Linked DNA regions of Homo sapiens: regions 1 and 2 are each reported to be linked to region 3. Evidence: microRNA targets listed by miRTarBase, many of them from high-throughput screens and not tested one by one. Region 3 holds a microRNA gene; each other region holds the end of a gene's coding sequence.

What was found. Region 3 holds the annotated microRNA hsa-miR-652-3p (AAUGGCGCCACUAGGGUUGUG, at 2,929-2,949, shown strand). A microRNA usually pairs through its seed, bases 2 to 8, with sites in the 3' UTR of a target mRNA and lowers its output. Matches are read on the target gene's strand: a 7mer-m8 pairs with bases 2 to 8, a 7mer-A1 pairs with bases 2 to 7 and ends in A, and an 8mer does both.
Region 1: the mRNA of LBHD1 is a reported target of hsa-miR-652-3p. The part of its 3' UTR that is shown has no 7-base or 8-base seed match.
Region 2: the mRNA of PRPF38A is a reported target of hsa-miR-652-3p. Seed matches in the 3' UTR shown: 7mer-m8 at 1,424-1,430.

What each region holds. Positions count from the first base shown.
Region 1 is chr11:62,659,053-62,664,052 of GRCh38, forward strand. LBHD1 (LBH domain containing 1) reads right to left here. Exons shown (of 7, transcript NM_024099.5): 6 at 4,184-4,281; 7 at 3,765-4,107. The coding sequence ends at 4,077. It overlaps C11orf98 (chromosome 11 open reading frame 98), which reads right to left. Exons shown (of 4, transcript NM_001286086.2): 3 at 4,184-4,281; 4 at 3,765-4,107. The coding sequence ends at 3,998. Among named protein-coding and RNA genes, the nearest start is that of C11orf98, 3.7 kb to the right of the region's middle.
Region 2 is chr1:52,416,424-52,421,423 of GRCh38, reverse strand. It overlaps PRPF38A (pre-mRNA processing factor 38A), which reads right to left. Exons shown (of 10, transcript NM_032864.4): 10 at 588-4,776. The coding sequence ends at 4,734. Among named protein-coding and RNA genes, the nearest start is that of PRPF38A, 14 kb to the right of the region's middle. RefSeq lists a silencer at 4,273-4,567.
Region 3 is chrX:110,052,461-110,057,856 of GRCh38, forward strand. MIR652 (microRNA 652) reads left to right here and starts at 2,869; the gene lies at 2,869-2,966. The region is part of intron 2 of TMEM164 (transmembrane protein 164); the gene reads left to right.

The sequences.
Region 1 (5,000 bases), not on the chromosome of region 3:
ATTCTCCTGCCTCAGCCTCCTAAGTAGCTGAAACTACAGATATGTGCTGCCACACCCAGCTAGTTTTAGTATTGTTAGTAGAGACAGGGTTTCATCATGTTGGCCAGGCTGCTCTAAAACTCCTGATCCCAAGTGATCCGCCCACCTCAGCCTCCCAAAGTGCTGGGATTACAGGCGTGAGCCATCACAACCGGCCAGTTCAATGTCAAAAGAATACTTCTCCTGTGTTTAAAACTGGACATTAGCCGGGCGTGGTGGCTCATGCCTGTAATCCCAACACTTTGGGAGACCGATGCAGGTGGATCATTTGAGCCCAGGAGTTGGAGGCCAGCCTAGGCAAAATGGCGAAGCCATGTCTACAAAAAATAAAAAATGGCCAGGCACGGTGGCTCACACCTGTAATCCCAGCACTTTGGGAGGCCGAGGCAGGCGGATCACGAAGTCAGGAGTTTGAGACCATCCTGTATCTACTAAAACCCTGTCTCTACTAAAGATTAAAAAAACTTAGCCGGGCATGGTGGCGCATGCCTGTAATCCCTGCTACTCGAGAGGCTGAGACAGGAGAATCGCTCTAACCCGGGAGGCGGAGGTTGCAGTGAGCCGAGATCATGCCATTGCATTCCAGCCTGGGCAACAGGGCAAGACTCCGTCTCAAAAAAAAAAAATAAGGCCGGGCGCAGTGGCTCACGCCTGTAATCCCAGCACTTTGGGAGACCAAGGCCGGCAGATCACAAGGTCAGGAGATTGGGACCATCCTGGCTAACATGGTGCAACCCCATCTCTACTGAAAATACAAAAACTTAGCTGGGCGTGGTGGCGTGCACCTGTAGTAATCCCAGCTATTCGGGAGGCTGAGGCAGGAGAATCGCTTGAACCTGGGAGGCGGAGGTTGCAGTGAGCCGAGATTGCGCCACTGCACTACAGCCTGGGTGACAGAGCAACACTCTGTCTCAAAATAAATAAATAAATAAATAAATAAATAAATAACTTTGCTGGCCATGATGGCATGCTCCTGTAGTCCCAGCTACTGGGGAGACTGAGGCGGGAGAATGGCGTGAACCCAGGAGGCGGAGCTTGCAGTGAGCTGAGATTGCGCCACTGCACTCCAGCCTGGGGGACAGAGCGAGACTCAAAAAAAAAAAAAAAAAGAAAAGAAAACAAACAAAAACCACTGAACATTAAGTGAAATATTGCACAGGGAAAACAACTGGACATAATAATTTTTTACTAGTGAAATTGCTGACTCCAAGTTCTTAGGCAGGGAAAGTAATAGGTGAGTCTGGAATATATTATTGTGCCAGAAAGCAATGAAGTGCTCAAATACTGTGGTTGTGTCATAAGGACTTAGGGACCAACTTGAAGAAGCTATTATTTGCCAAACTTGTCATAATTTCAGCATGAAAAAGTGTTAGCAATAAATTATAACATTGGAAAAAATCTGTAAATTCATAGTGATAATAAAAAAGGGGCAGGGCTCTTTTTTGTTGTTGAAAAGTCTTGCTCTGTCACCCAGGCTGGAGTGCAGTGGCACGATCTCGGCTCACTGCAACTTCCCCCTCCCGGGTTCAAGTGATTCTTCTGCCTCAGCCTCCCGAGTATCTGGGACTACAGGTGCAGGCCACCACACCTGACTAATTTTTTGTATTTTCAGTAGAGACGGGGTTTCACCATGTTGGACAGGCTGGTCTTGAACTCCTGACCTCAGGTGATCCCCTGGCCTCAGCTGTCCATAGTGCTGGGATTACAGGAGTGAACCACCATGCATGGCCTGGGCTCTTCTTTATAGAATGTCATAGGAATAATATGAATGAATGAATGAATGAATGACAGTATTGGAAAATCACCATTTTGTAACACAGTAATAACTAATTCAGGTAATGATCATCATGGCTACTAAACCATTGGGTGGGCCAGGCACAGTGGCTCACACCTGTAATCCCAACACTTTGGGAAGCCGAGGTGAGTGGATCATTTGAGGTCAGGAGTTCAAGACCAGCCTGGCCAATATGGTGAAACTCCGCCTCTACTAAAAATACAGAAAAATAGCCGGTGCAGTGGCTCACGCCTGTAATCCCAGCACTTTGGGAGGCTGAGGTGGGCAGATCACCTGAGGTCAGAGTTCGAGACCATCCTGGCCAACATGGTGAAACCCTGTCTCTACTAAAAACACAAAAATTAGGTGGGCGTGGTGGCAGGCGCCTGTAGTCCCAACTACTCAGGAGGCTGAGGCAGGAAAATCCCTTGAACATAGGAGGCGGAGGTTACAGTGAGTCAAGATCGCGCCACTGCACTCCAGCCTGGCGACAGAGCAAGACTCCGTATCAAAATAAAATAAAATAAAATAAAATAAAAATACATATTAGGTATTTAATCAATGTTAAATGTCTTAGCTGTGATTACAGTATTTTGGCTACATAGAAGGATGTCCTTAGGAGTAAGGTTTCATGTTGTCTATATTTGACTTTCAAAGGATTTCATTCAATAAGGACAAGAAAAATGCAGATACAGAAGTGTAGCACAATGTTAATAACTGGTAAATCTAAGTAGAGGGCATATACCAGGGCTCATTTTACTAATCTCTTCTCTTTACTGAAAGTTTTTTTTTTATTATTATTACACCAGTAATCCCAGCACTTTGGGAGGTTAAGGTGGATGGATCGCTTGAGTCCAGGGGTTTGAGACCAGCCTGGGTAAAACTCCATTTCTACAGAAAATTTTTTAAAATTAGTCAGGGGTGGCCGGGCACGGTGGCTCACACCTGTAGTCCCAGCACTTTGGGAGGCCGACGTGGGAAGATCACAGGGTCAGGAGTTCAAGATCAGCCTGGCCAACATACTGAAACCCTGTCTCTACTAAAAAATACAAAAAATAAGCCAGGCCTGGTGGCAGGCGCCTGTAATCCCAGCTACTCAGGAGGCTGAGGCAGGAGAATTGCTTGAACCCGGGAGGCAGAGGGTGCAGTGAGCCAAGATTATGCCATTGCACTCCAGCCGGGGCTACAGTGTGAGACTCTGTCTCAAAAAAAAAAAAATTAAAATAAAATAAATAAATAAATATATATATATATAAATTAAAATGAAAATATAATGCAGCAAAAGAAGTAAGACAGAAGAGGTAAGGTGTCTTGCCTACCTTAGTCACACAGAGGCAGTGGCAGAACTGGTATCAGGACCTTTACCTCTGCTATCCCTACAATTATCTATCTATATTTTTCGAGACAATGGCTCACTCTGTTGCCCAGGCTGGAGTGCAGTGGGACAATCTTGGCTCACTGTAACTTCAACTTCTCGAATAATCTGTATCTTTGTCATAAATGGAAAGTTAGAGTATCACTCACTAAGGAGACAGATGAGATCACAGCACACTACAGCCTTGAGTTCCTGGCCTCAAGCAATACCCCGGTAGGCAATCTCCGCCTCCCGGGTTCAAGCGATTCTCCTGCCTCAGCCTCCAAGTAGCTGGGATTACAGGCGTGCACCACCACGCCCGGCTAATTTTTTGTATTTTTAGTAGAAACGGGGTTAGCCAGGCTGGTCTCGAACTTGTGACCTCAGGTGATCCACCTGCCTCGGCCTCCCAAAGTGCTGGCATTAGAGGCGTGAGCCACTGCACCCGGCCAGGCACCACCACTCTTGAGGGCAGAGGCTGGCATCTTGTTGCATTTGCACAAGGAAGCTGTGGGTACTGCTTCCTCACTGTCTTGTTTCCATACTCCCCAATCTTTTCATGACCCATCCCCATTCCTACATTTAATCACACACATCTCAGAGTGCTAGGGCTTTATTACAAATGGAGTTGACTGCTAGAGAGGCCCTTCTCCAATCTTTCTTCTGTACCTTCTTCCCTCCCAAAGACATCCCTCTAGGGGAGGTCAGTAGGCCATTAGGTAGGAGGAAATCTGGAGAGTGAAAAGGGGCCTTGCTTTTGTCAAAGTCCTCTGAAACAACCACTGAGTCTGAAGGCTGGCTCCAGTTGAGAATCTTCTAGTGGAAGAGGTTTAGCTCTCATCTTCAAGGTCCTTCATTTCTACATCCTGGGGGGCTTTTGTCTTCTTTTGCCTTTTGAGCTGTGGTTCACTAGTCCTGGCTGGCTTTGAAGGGGCTTCCACTGAGTAAAGGGAAGAAGGAAGTATTATCCCAAATAAATCCAGGATTCCCCTCACCCACCTCTGTCCCAGCCTCACCTTCCATGGCTGTCTTCTCTTTCTGGGCAAGCCGGATCTGCTGGAGGAGTTTTCTGCGCTTCTTCCCTGACAGTGTAATGTTGGCACGTGCACTGGACCTGATGGGTAAGTGGAAATAAAGAGAGCTAGGTTAACCTGAACCAACTGAGGTCACACAAATAGTTCTGGCTATAGAAAAAGTATTAAATAGGCTGGGCGCAGTGGCTCACGCCTGTAATCCCAGCACTTTGGGAGGCCGAGGCGGCTGGATCACGAGGTCAGGAGATCGAGACCACGGTGAAACCCTGTCTCTACTAAAAATACAAAACATTAGCTGGGCGCAGTGGCGGGCGCCTGTAGTCCCAGCTACTCGGGAGGCTGCGGCAGGAGAATGGCGTGAACCCAGAAGGCGGAGCTTGCAGTGAGCCGAGATCGCGCCACTGCACTCCAGCCTGGGCGACAAAGCGAGACTCCGTCTCAAAAAAAAAAAAAAAAGGAAAAGTATTAAATAAATATAATATAAATAGTAATAGAAACCCTAAATATTTACATTGAAGAAGCTAATGAAAGGACATAGATCGGGGGCGGTGGCTTATGCCTGTAATCCCAACACTTTGGGAGGCTGAGGTGGGCGGATCACCTGAGGTCAGGAGTTCAAGACCAGCCTGGCCAACATGGTGAAACCCCGTCTCTACTAAAAATACAAAAATTAGCCGGGTGCAGTGGGGAGCACCTGTAATCCCAGCTACTCGGGAGGCTGAGGCAAGAGAATAGCTTAAACCCAGGAGGCAGGGGTTGCAGTGAGCCGAGATCATGCCACTTCACTCCAGCCTGGGCA
Region 2 (5,000 bases), not on the chromosome of region 3:
CCCCTCCTTCAGTAACTGCCAGTGTTCAATAATTGGCAAAACTGTTCTGTTGAAAAACATATAGTTTAAAATTGATATAGTAGAAACTCAGATTTTAAGTCTGCAAAGTAGATTATGAGTTCAGATTCATTGTAGAGCAGTTAAGTAGAAAATTATCAATCTTATACAGGGAGAACACACACATTTAAGACCAAATTGTTTTGAAATGTTCTGTTTAATGACATGGAGATTAGTATTTTCCCTTGACATTAGGGTTATTAAAAATATAAATATGTACTGTATATTTGTTTATATCCCCTACAGATGGACATTTTTGCTGTTTCCAGTTATTCTTATATATACATATTATATATGTAATGTGTAAAATGATGATGGGATAAAGCTATTTGTGTGTACATGTAATTATTCTATTAGGGTAAATTCCCCTAAATGGGATTACTGGGTAAAAGGATCAAAAGTCCTAAGGTTCCTGCTACATATTGCCAAATTGCCCTTCATAAAAGTGGTTATCAATCTGTAGTTCCAGCAAACAATACGTAAAATGTGTTGGTATGCTTATAAAAAAGCTTTTAACTCCCAACAACTCATTTCTTCCTTGTAGAAATTAACATGTTTATTGTAAAAAGAAAATAAGCATTATATAAAAGTACAAAGTTTAAAAATCATTCAAAAGTTCATCAGCCAGAAAGAAGTACTATCTGGTGAACTTCATTCATTCCAACCATCTCTCTTAATCATACAGGCACATATATACAAATAGTTTTACAAAAGTGGGCTCATATGCTATATTTAACAAATATAGCAAATTAACAAAAGGAAAACAAGTGTGAAACTGAAAAAATGCTCAATTTAAATACTTTTTTCCCCACAAGAGAATCTAGTCTTGTAAGATTTCTCCTAAAATTAAGGACAATTACGGAAAACAATAAAGAGGCTATTTTTTTTTCTAGCTTCATGTATGTTTTAATTAGAGACTGTACGTGATTCCTGCTATGAAAGATGAAACCAGCACACTCTACTTGTTATTTCTATATAGACAGTGTTCATAATATTTGACTTTATAATCATTGCCCATTATTTTTAAAGTTTCTGAAGTGTTTACTAACACTCCTTTTACTGATTCTTTGTTCCTAAGTCCTTAATTTGATTCATTTCTTCTTTAGTTGAATTTCATTATTGGGCGGTTTTTTCCCAAAGACTCATGATTTGTACTTTTAAGTTCTTACAAACTTGAGAACATCTATAGCCTTTGTATTTTAAGACAACTTTGGCAAAGTATAAAATTCCTGGCACTTTTTCTCAAACCTTTGGAGCCTTTTGCTTCATTGCCTTCTTGTTATAAGATCTGAGACCATCCTGACCCCATTTAATTCTTTTTTCTTTTTGAGACGGAGTCTCACTCTGTTGCCCAGGCTGGAGTGCAATGGCGCGATCTCGGCTCACTGAAAGCTCCGCCTCCCGGATTCACGCCATTCTCCTGCCTCAGCCTCCCTAGTAGCTCTACCCGCCAGCACACCCAGCTAATTTTTTGTATTTTTAGTAGAGACGGGTTTCACTGTGTTAGCCTGGATGGTCTCGATCTCCTGACCTCATGATCCGTCTGCCTCGGCCTCCCAAAGTGCTGGGATTACAGGCGTGAGCCACCGCACCCGGCCAATTCTTTTTAAACCATCAGAATATTTCTTTATTCTACATATTTCTCTTTTCCATTTTTTATTTCCTCCAGCCTATTTTCTCTGTGCTGTTTTATGTTTTGTGGTTTCTAGTATAAGGCCTTTAAACTCCACCAATCTTATTTTTCATCTCTTAATCTCTTTTGAACTTTTTTTTTTTAAAGAGATCATGTCTGCTGTCTTTTTTGAGCAGGTGGAGAATTTCTGTCACATTAACCTTTTTGAGGGAGTGGGCAATCTGTGATCGTTCTTTTCTAAATAATGCTTATTTAAACTTCGGTCTACTGAAGAATAACAAACAGGAAGAGGTTAGAGGAATGAGCTTGAAGTTGGGTTGTTAATATTGGAACCCTCTCACCAAACCCATTCTTCTTCTTCTTTTTTTTTTTTTTTTGAGATGGAGTTTCGCTCTTTTTGCCCAGGCTGAAGTGCAGTGGCACGATCTCAGCTCACCGCATCCTCTGCCTCCCAGGTTCAAGCGATTCTCCTGCCTCAGCCTCCCAAGTAACTGGGATTACAGGCATGCGCCACCATGCCCGGCTAATTTTGTATTTTTTAGTAGAGACAGGGTTTCTCCATGTTGGCCAGGCTGGTCTCAAACTCCCGACCTCAGGTGATCTGCCCGCCTCGGCCTCCCAAAGTGCTGGGATTACAGGCGTGAGCCACCGCACCTGGCCAAAAATGCATTATTTCTTTTGCCCCTTGGAACACATCTCCCTTACTTTCTTAGTATTAAAAGGCGATTGTGCCCTATGGCAAAGCTTTTAAGTCAGTGTATTTCAAATTATTGGAAGTGAAATCGATTAAGTGGTTTCATCCAATATTAAAAACTGTTAACAAGTAGGAAACACCAGAATTCACTTTGCATAGTAAGTATTCTTTCCTGAAATTTGTCTCAGTACAGAATACAGATGTGTACAGAGGTAAGATGTAAAATACGTTTTTAAAATGTATGCTGTAGTCAAAAAGTTTAAAATGCTTCATCCATAGGCAAGCACATAGATGACAGAAAGAGCCTTACAGCAAGGTTTGTCCTCAAGCTCCATCTCCTGTGTAATTTTATCAAAACGATATCTACAGACATGCAACATGTCTTACTCTTACCTCCTTCTTCTAATTAAAGAATAGGGACATTCTCTTTCCTGCTATTGATTGGCTGTGGTACCTCAATTTTGGTCCACATATTACCATATGTCTAAACAAGTATGTTTTAATGTTTGTTTAGGGAGGTTTATTTCTGTTACTAAAATTTATTGGGCTTTGTGCGTGGGTTTATTTTTACTTTAAAACATATTTTAAGACAAAGTTTTATTTTAAGAGTGTACTGGATGACAGCTTGGTTGGTCCATGGGTCATTTCTGTCCATGCCAGAAGACATTTCTTTCTACCTAGATCACTTTCATAAAGAAATAACTGCTATGACACTGTAATACATTTACGTACAGATGCTTATATTTAATCTTAAAAGGTAGTCCTATATAGTTCTATCAGAAACCGTAAGAGCTCTTTCAGACCACTTTTATTAACTCAGGTATTACGAAAGGAACCATTGAAGAATATGAAAGCTCAAATAAGATTAAAAAATGCTTTAATACTGCTGAAGTCTTTCAATTCTAGAGCAGGCATAGAATATATAGAATGTTTACCTTATGACCAGATACAACCTCCCAAGAAAAACTGGATCCTGCAGGGCAGCTGGTCTTCACAGTTCCTGCTGGGACTACAGTTGCAGAAGTCATTCCATCACTTTTCTCTTTTTAAGGGAGTTAAGTACAGGTAAAGGAACTCTTCTAGCAAAGATCTTAATAATCTCTTGATTATCGATGTCCGTGGAGGCTTTTTAGTCCTTCCTTTGCTTCTGCATTCTTGACCCTTGGCTTCTTTCACTCACTCTCTCCTAATTCTCCTGTCTTTCTGAATGGGCCATTCCAGTTTTCAATAGGTGACTTCTATTTCTTCCTGTGTTGGTGTTGCCTATGGTTCTGTTGTGTGCATTTCTGATATATATTAACACTCTGGGAAGTCTTATTGACAGATTCCACCATTACTTAAACATTGTCAATTCTGGCCTAGATCGCTATGTTAAACTCTGGTCCCTATCTCCAACTTTATGGGCTTTTGTTTTTAGCTATACCATAGCTGTCTCAAATTAAACTTGTTAAACTGAATGCATCATTTTCATTACTACCACCATCCTCTAATTCTCTGCCCCTCTAAAAGCTGTCTCTTCCTGCTGTATTTTCTGACTTTGTGAATGGCACGACTGTCTAGCAATTTAGGTCAAAACCATGACTAATATTAGATACTTTCCTCTCCATCAAATCTTTTTCAATCCCGTTACCCTACTGCTACTGACTAGGCCTGGATAATGTCAATGCTTATATGATAAAGGCTGGATACCTTAACCTGGATTTCAAGCTTGTGGGCAAGAACAAATGAAACTATGAAAAAATGGGCTGTATAAAGGGTATTAAGTGCTGCTCTCTGTTGAACTGTTTGATGAAACTGGCTTTAATGATCCAGAAGCAGCCTTACATTTGAATGCATTCTATTCTTTCAAAACTGCTACAAACCAGTTTTCATGTTTATTACCACTTGCTGCTGCTGGAAAAAAGTTAGGAGCAACTATGTTTTACTCCTTTGATCTTTGAATAACAGCAGCAGCACAAATCCCAGGATTCTCAAAGCAGTTCCAACCACAACAAACCAAAAACTAAACTACAGCGAAATGGGAAACAGGTGTGTCCGGTTTAATAAAAAGGGAAAGGGTCATCAGGTGGCCACAGCCTTTCCTTGTCAGTCATATCCCCAACCTCCAGATCCTTTATACTCTCATAAGTTTGAATACAGTCAAGGTTAGTTGGGTCAAAAACTGATGTTGATTATGATTAAAAAGATACAAAACTCAGCACCTCCTTCATTAAAAATAAAGGTTGAGAAACTTGATAAGAAAAAAACTAAAATATTCTTATAGCTGCCTGGGGGAGATCTTAATCCTTCCACATACAGATATCCTTATATCCACAGGAGGCCATGTGGACTAAAACCAAACTGAGTCCATTACTCATTCCCTCTCCGGCTCTTCTTGTGGCTCTTCTTAGACCTGAAATGGCAACACATATAAATAATTATATTAAGAAGCAGCCAGGCACGGTGGCTCACGCCTGTAATCCCAGCACTTTGGGATGCCAAGGTAGGCAGATCACCTGAGGTCAGGAATTCGAGACCAGCCTGGCCAACATGGTGAAACCCTGTCTCTACTAAAAGTACAAAAATTAGCCGAGCATGGCGGCGGGCACCTGTAATCCCAGCTACTCAGGAGGCTGG
Region 3 (5,396 bases):
CTTGAATATTCTAAAATGGCTTTTGCTTAGGTAACCAAGTCTATCCATATTGTATGGAGACATCTTGTTTCATTTATTCATTCAGCAAGTACCTGATGAGCATCTCATATGTTCCAGGCACTGTGTTAAGTTCTGGACCTACAGTGAGGACCATCACACAGCTCCTGCTCTCCAGAAGCTTATGGTCAGCAGGGAAGATCAACATTTAATGAAAACATAGCTAAATATAAATGAGAAATGGTGATATGTGTTGTGAAGGAAAAGAACAGCATTTACATGCATCTGTTTTTTTTTTTTTTTTTTTTTTTGAGACGGAGTCTTGCTCTGTCGCATAGGCTGGAGTGCAGTGGCGCCATCTTGGCTGACTGCACCTTCCGCCTTCCAGGTTCAAGCGATTCTCCTGCCTCAGCCTCCCGAGTAGGTGGGGCTACAGGCATGCACCACCATGCCCAGCTAATTTTTTTGTATTTTTAGTAGAGACGGGGTTTCACCATGTTGGCCAGGATGGTCTTGATCTTTTCACCTCATGATCTGCCCACCTTGGCCTCCCAAAGTGCTGGGATTACAGGCGTGAGCCACCATGCCTGGCCTACATGCATCATTTTTTAAAACAGTGATTAATGGAGTCCCCTTTCCCAATTTTTTAATACAAAGGTGTGGATGGGAGATTTGCAGCAAAGATAGGAAAGCAAAGATATAACCCACAATCTTTACTCTTGCCAACAGCTCTTACCTTCTTTCCCACCAAAATTTTCCTTTGATAAAATGTCTTGCTGAGAGTTAGGCTAACTCACCAACCAGCTTTAATTTTGGTTGACAGGGTGCCGTAGAAGACCTTTGCTAGCCAGACTGTGAGCTTCTTGCAGACAGGAATTATGTCCTGCATCACTGTGTGCTCAGAACCTCAGGAAGAACAAACTGATGTAGGCACCAGGAAATAGGTGCTTTTATTACATTCTCATTTTATGCCTTAGAAGCACTGCAAATGGTAGGTATTCTTATTTCTGTTTTAAACAATGAGAAAACTGAGGCTTAAGGAGGTGTAAAAAATACTTTCTTTTAAAAAAAATACACCTCTCCCCCACCATCATAAAAACCCCAACTTTGGCCATAGAGTTCATTGGTGGTGGAGCACTGCAAACATTAGCTGTCCCATGTGGCTTTGACTCTGACACAATTGGTCCTCTTGCTTCAGGGAACTGGATACCATCCATCCCTCCCATGGGTTGGCCTAGGCTCTGTTACTTCAGAGTTTTCTTGACGAGTTTCAAGGTAACCAGGTCATCCTGTTCTACATATTTTTCTGGGATTGAGGTCAAGGAGCAGCATGATCCTCTCTTAAATGGGTCAGAGGAGGAGGACTCCTGTGGCTCCCTGAAAGGTCAAGCCCCTTCATGCTAACTACACCGTCTTCCCTTCTCTTCCAGCTTATGTCCTGGGCTGGGCTCTGGACAGGGAGCAGAGGCAGATGTGCGCATGTGTTCTGGAGGACTTTTATATGTCCGATGGTGTGTTAGGCACTATGTGGAGTGGAGGCAGAGGGAACTCCAGAAAAGATAAATTATCTTATGGTGGAGACAAAAGGTAGTATTGGCAACAAACATGACCTCTGGAATCAGATAGTTTTGGGTTCCAGGCCTGACTCTTTGACTCACTTATTAGTTGTGCGACCTTAGGCAATTTATTTAACCTTTCTGTAGCTCAGTTTCCTTGTATGCAAACAGGAGGAAAATAATAATCTCTTACATAATAGGATTGCTATGAAGAATATATGAACTAATATGTGTAAGACATTGACTGTAGTGCCAGGCACCTAGTAAGCACTCAGTAAGGAATAACTACTGCCATTATTGTTGTTACTAACAACAGTATGAGACTAATAAGTGATTAGTGTATAAGTACCAACAAATACCAATGGAGTTCAGAAAAAGAATGCTTAATTTTTGTGACTTATCCAGGAAATCTCTAGAGGAGACAGAAGAAGTGGAATGAAATATTCCAGGTGGAGCAAATATGAAAGTGGGAGGCTGAACTGAACTGGAGTGGGGAACAAAAAGAAGAAACAAACGCAACATCTGGCACCCTTGAGCTCTACCACCAGCTCACCTGTTGTCACTACCAATATGTCCAGTCCTTTATGGCTCTCCATTTTGGAGTGCCCTGAATTACTGGCTGCAGTTTTGACTTGGCCAGCTAGTTGGCCAGCTGCTCTGACTGAGCTTGAGGGTGTCTGTGCCTTGGTGGAGTTGACACGGGTCCTAACTCTGCAACTTGGTTTGTAGGTTCAAAGCCTAATTTTTATCAGCTTACCCAGGGCTGTTGGTTTCTAGTGGATTGGGTCACACTCCCCAACATTACAAAACACTTCTTAATAAATCACCAGGCTGATAAGTCGATTGATGATGAGAGAGAGACCTTTATAGAGATGAGAACACTTGTGTGTATCAGCCCTTTCTGATATCAAGGTACCTGAAGCCAAATTAAACAGGGACTGTTTTATAACCTAAAATCAGAACCTAATGGAGTTGAAAAGTCTCATGAGCGAGACCATATAGGCTTTGGTAGTCCATGGAAAACTGTACCTTTTTGCATGTCTGTCATAGCTTTGTAGTGTGACCAGAATGTGTGTCCTGTTCTCTCTCCACTGCTGGAGAAACATCAGTAACAATTTTTCTCTTGGATGTTCCTGTTTTCAATTCCATGCAAATGCTGTTTGTGTGCTATGGCCATGCTATTCTCTTGAATTTCTTTTTTCTTGACAAGATTTTTGAGTTGCCTACTTCTCAGCGACAACATAGTGATTCTCTCATTGAGTGTTCTTTTTGGCTTTGTTCTCAAACACTAGGAATGTTTCCAAGCAGGGCCGCCACGAATGGCTATGCACTGCACAACCCTAGGAGAGGGTGCCATTCACATAGACTATAATTGAATGGCGCCACTAGGGTTGTGCAGTGCACAACCTACACAACTGTACTCGGCGGCCCTGGCATAATGTAATGTCAGTACTTTCTTCATCAAGGTACCAGTTTGGGATTGTCCTCAGGGTAAGGGGGCTGAAGCAGTGAGCTGCTGCTGTGACCAGGAAAGGAAGAAAGAAGTAAAGTTGTGGCTTTGGGAGAATTATCTTCTCTGTAAATGAGAGCCATCATATAGGAGAACTACGTACCTTCGTTCTTTCAGTAAATAGTTTTTTAAGTGCCTACTATGTGAGGGTTGAAGAACAGGGAGGGGTTTGCATAGGAGGGAGCATTTGAACTGGGCTTTGTGAAAGAAGTAGAATATTAACATGTGAAGATGAGTCAGGAGGAGAGAATCTCAGGGGGAAGGAATAGCGAGAAGAAAGACAGATGGGAGACCACAAGGGATATATGGGTAATGGTGCATAATTCATCTTGGTTGGATAGAAAAGCATGTAAAAGGGAGTAGTGAGCAATGATGCTGGTCGGGGGTCAAATGATGATGCAGGAGGGGAGGGAGTTGAATGCCCAATTAAGGAATTTGGACTTTTATTTATCAAGCAATAAGGAGCTATCCAAAGTTTGTTTTTTAAACAGCTTTATTGGGTTATAATCATATACCATATAATTCATTCATTTAAAGTGTACAATTGAATGTTTTTAGTATATTCACATATATGTGCAACCACCACCACAGTCAAATTTAGAACATTTTCATCATCCAAAAAATAACTCCATACGATTTAGCTCACCCCCCTCCCTACCTTTCCCCCACTCACCAGCCCTAAGCAATTGTTAATCTACTTTCTGTTTCTATAGATTTTATCTATTCTGGACATTTCATAGAAATTGAGTAATTATAATATGTGACCTTTTTCCACTGGCTTCTTTCACTTAGTATGTTTTCGAGATTCATCTGTGTTTAGCATGTATCAGTACTTCACTTATTTTTATGGCCAATTAATATTCCATTTTAAGGATATGCCACATTTTATGTATCCATTTGTCTGTTGGTGAGCATTTGGGTTGTTTCTGCCTTTTGGCTATTACAGATAATACTTCTGTGAACATCTGTAAGTTTTCAGGTGCACATAGGTTTTTATTTCCCTTGGACATAGGTTTTCATTTCCCCCAGGTATAGGAGTGGAATTGCTGAGTCATATGATAACTCTATGTTTAACCTCTCAAGGAGCTGCCAGACTGTTTCTCTAAAATGGCAGCATCATTTTACATCCCTACCGACAGTATAAAAGGGTTCCAATTTCTCCACATCCTCATGCACACTTGTGTTTGCCTTTTATATTTTGGCCATGCTAGTGGGTATGAAGTGTCATCTCATTGTGGATTTGATTTGCATTTCCCTGATGACTAATGATGTTGAACATCTTTTCATGTGCATGTTGAGTACCCGTGTGTTTTCTTTGGAGAGATGTCTGTTCAAGGTTATTTATCTTTTTATTGTTGAGTTTTTTTAATACTTTAGCTATTTTTAATGTATATATTTAAGGTTTTCAACTTAATGATTATATATATATATGGAAATCACCACAATCAAGATAACACATGCATTACATCATAGAGTTATCATTTATGTGTGTATGCGTGTGTGTGTGTGTTGGAAATACTTAGGATCTATTCTTATAGCAAATTTTAAGTATACAGTACAGTATTTTCACCTATAGTCGCCATGCTGTACATTAGATATCCAGGACTTACTTGTCCTGGAAAACTAAAACTTTGTACTTTTTGACTAACATCTTACTTTCCCAGCACCAGCCCCAGCTAACCATCATTTTATACTCAGCTTCTATGAGTTAGACTAATTTACATTTCATATTTATGTGACATCATAAGATATTTTTCTTTCTGGCTCATTTCACTTAACATAATGTCCTTTGGGTCCTTCTGTGTTACTGCAAATGATAGGATATCCTTCTTTTTAAAGGCTGGATAATATACCACATTTTCTTTATTCATGCATCCATCGATGAACATTTATCTTGTTTCTATATCTTTGCTATTGTGAATAACGGTGCAAGGAATATAGGAGTGCAGATATCCCTTTGAGATCTTGATTTCAACTGTTGGATAAGTATTCCAGAAGTGGGATTGCTGTGTCATAGAATAGGTCTTTTTTTTTTTTTTTTTTTGAAACTATACTATTTTTGATAATGGCTCTATTGATCTCCATCAGCAGTTTTCCAGGGTTCTGTTTTCTCCACACCCTTCCCAATATTGCCATCTTTTGCATTTTTTATAATAGCCATTCTGACAAGGGTGACATGAGATCTCACTGTGGTTTTCATTTGCATATCCCCAATGATTAGTGATGTTGAGCACCTTTTCATATACCTGTTGTCCATTTGTATGCCTTCTTTGGAAAAATGTCTATTCAGATCCTTTGCCCATTTTAAAATTGGGTTATTTGTATTTCTGCTA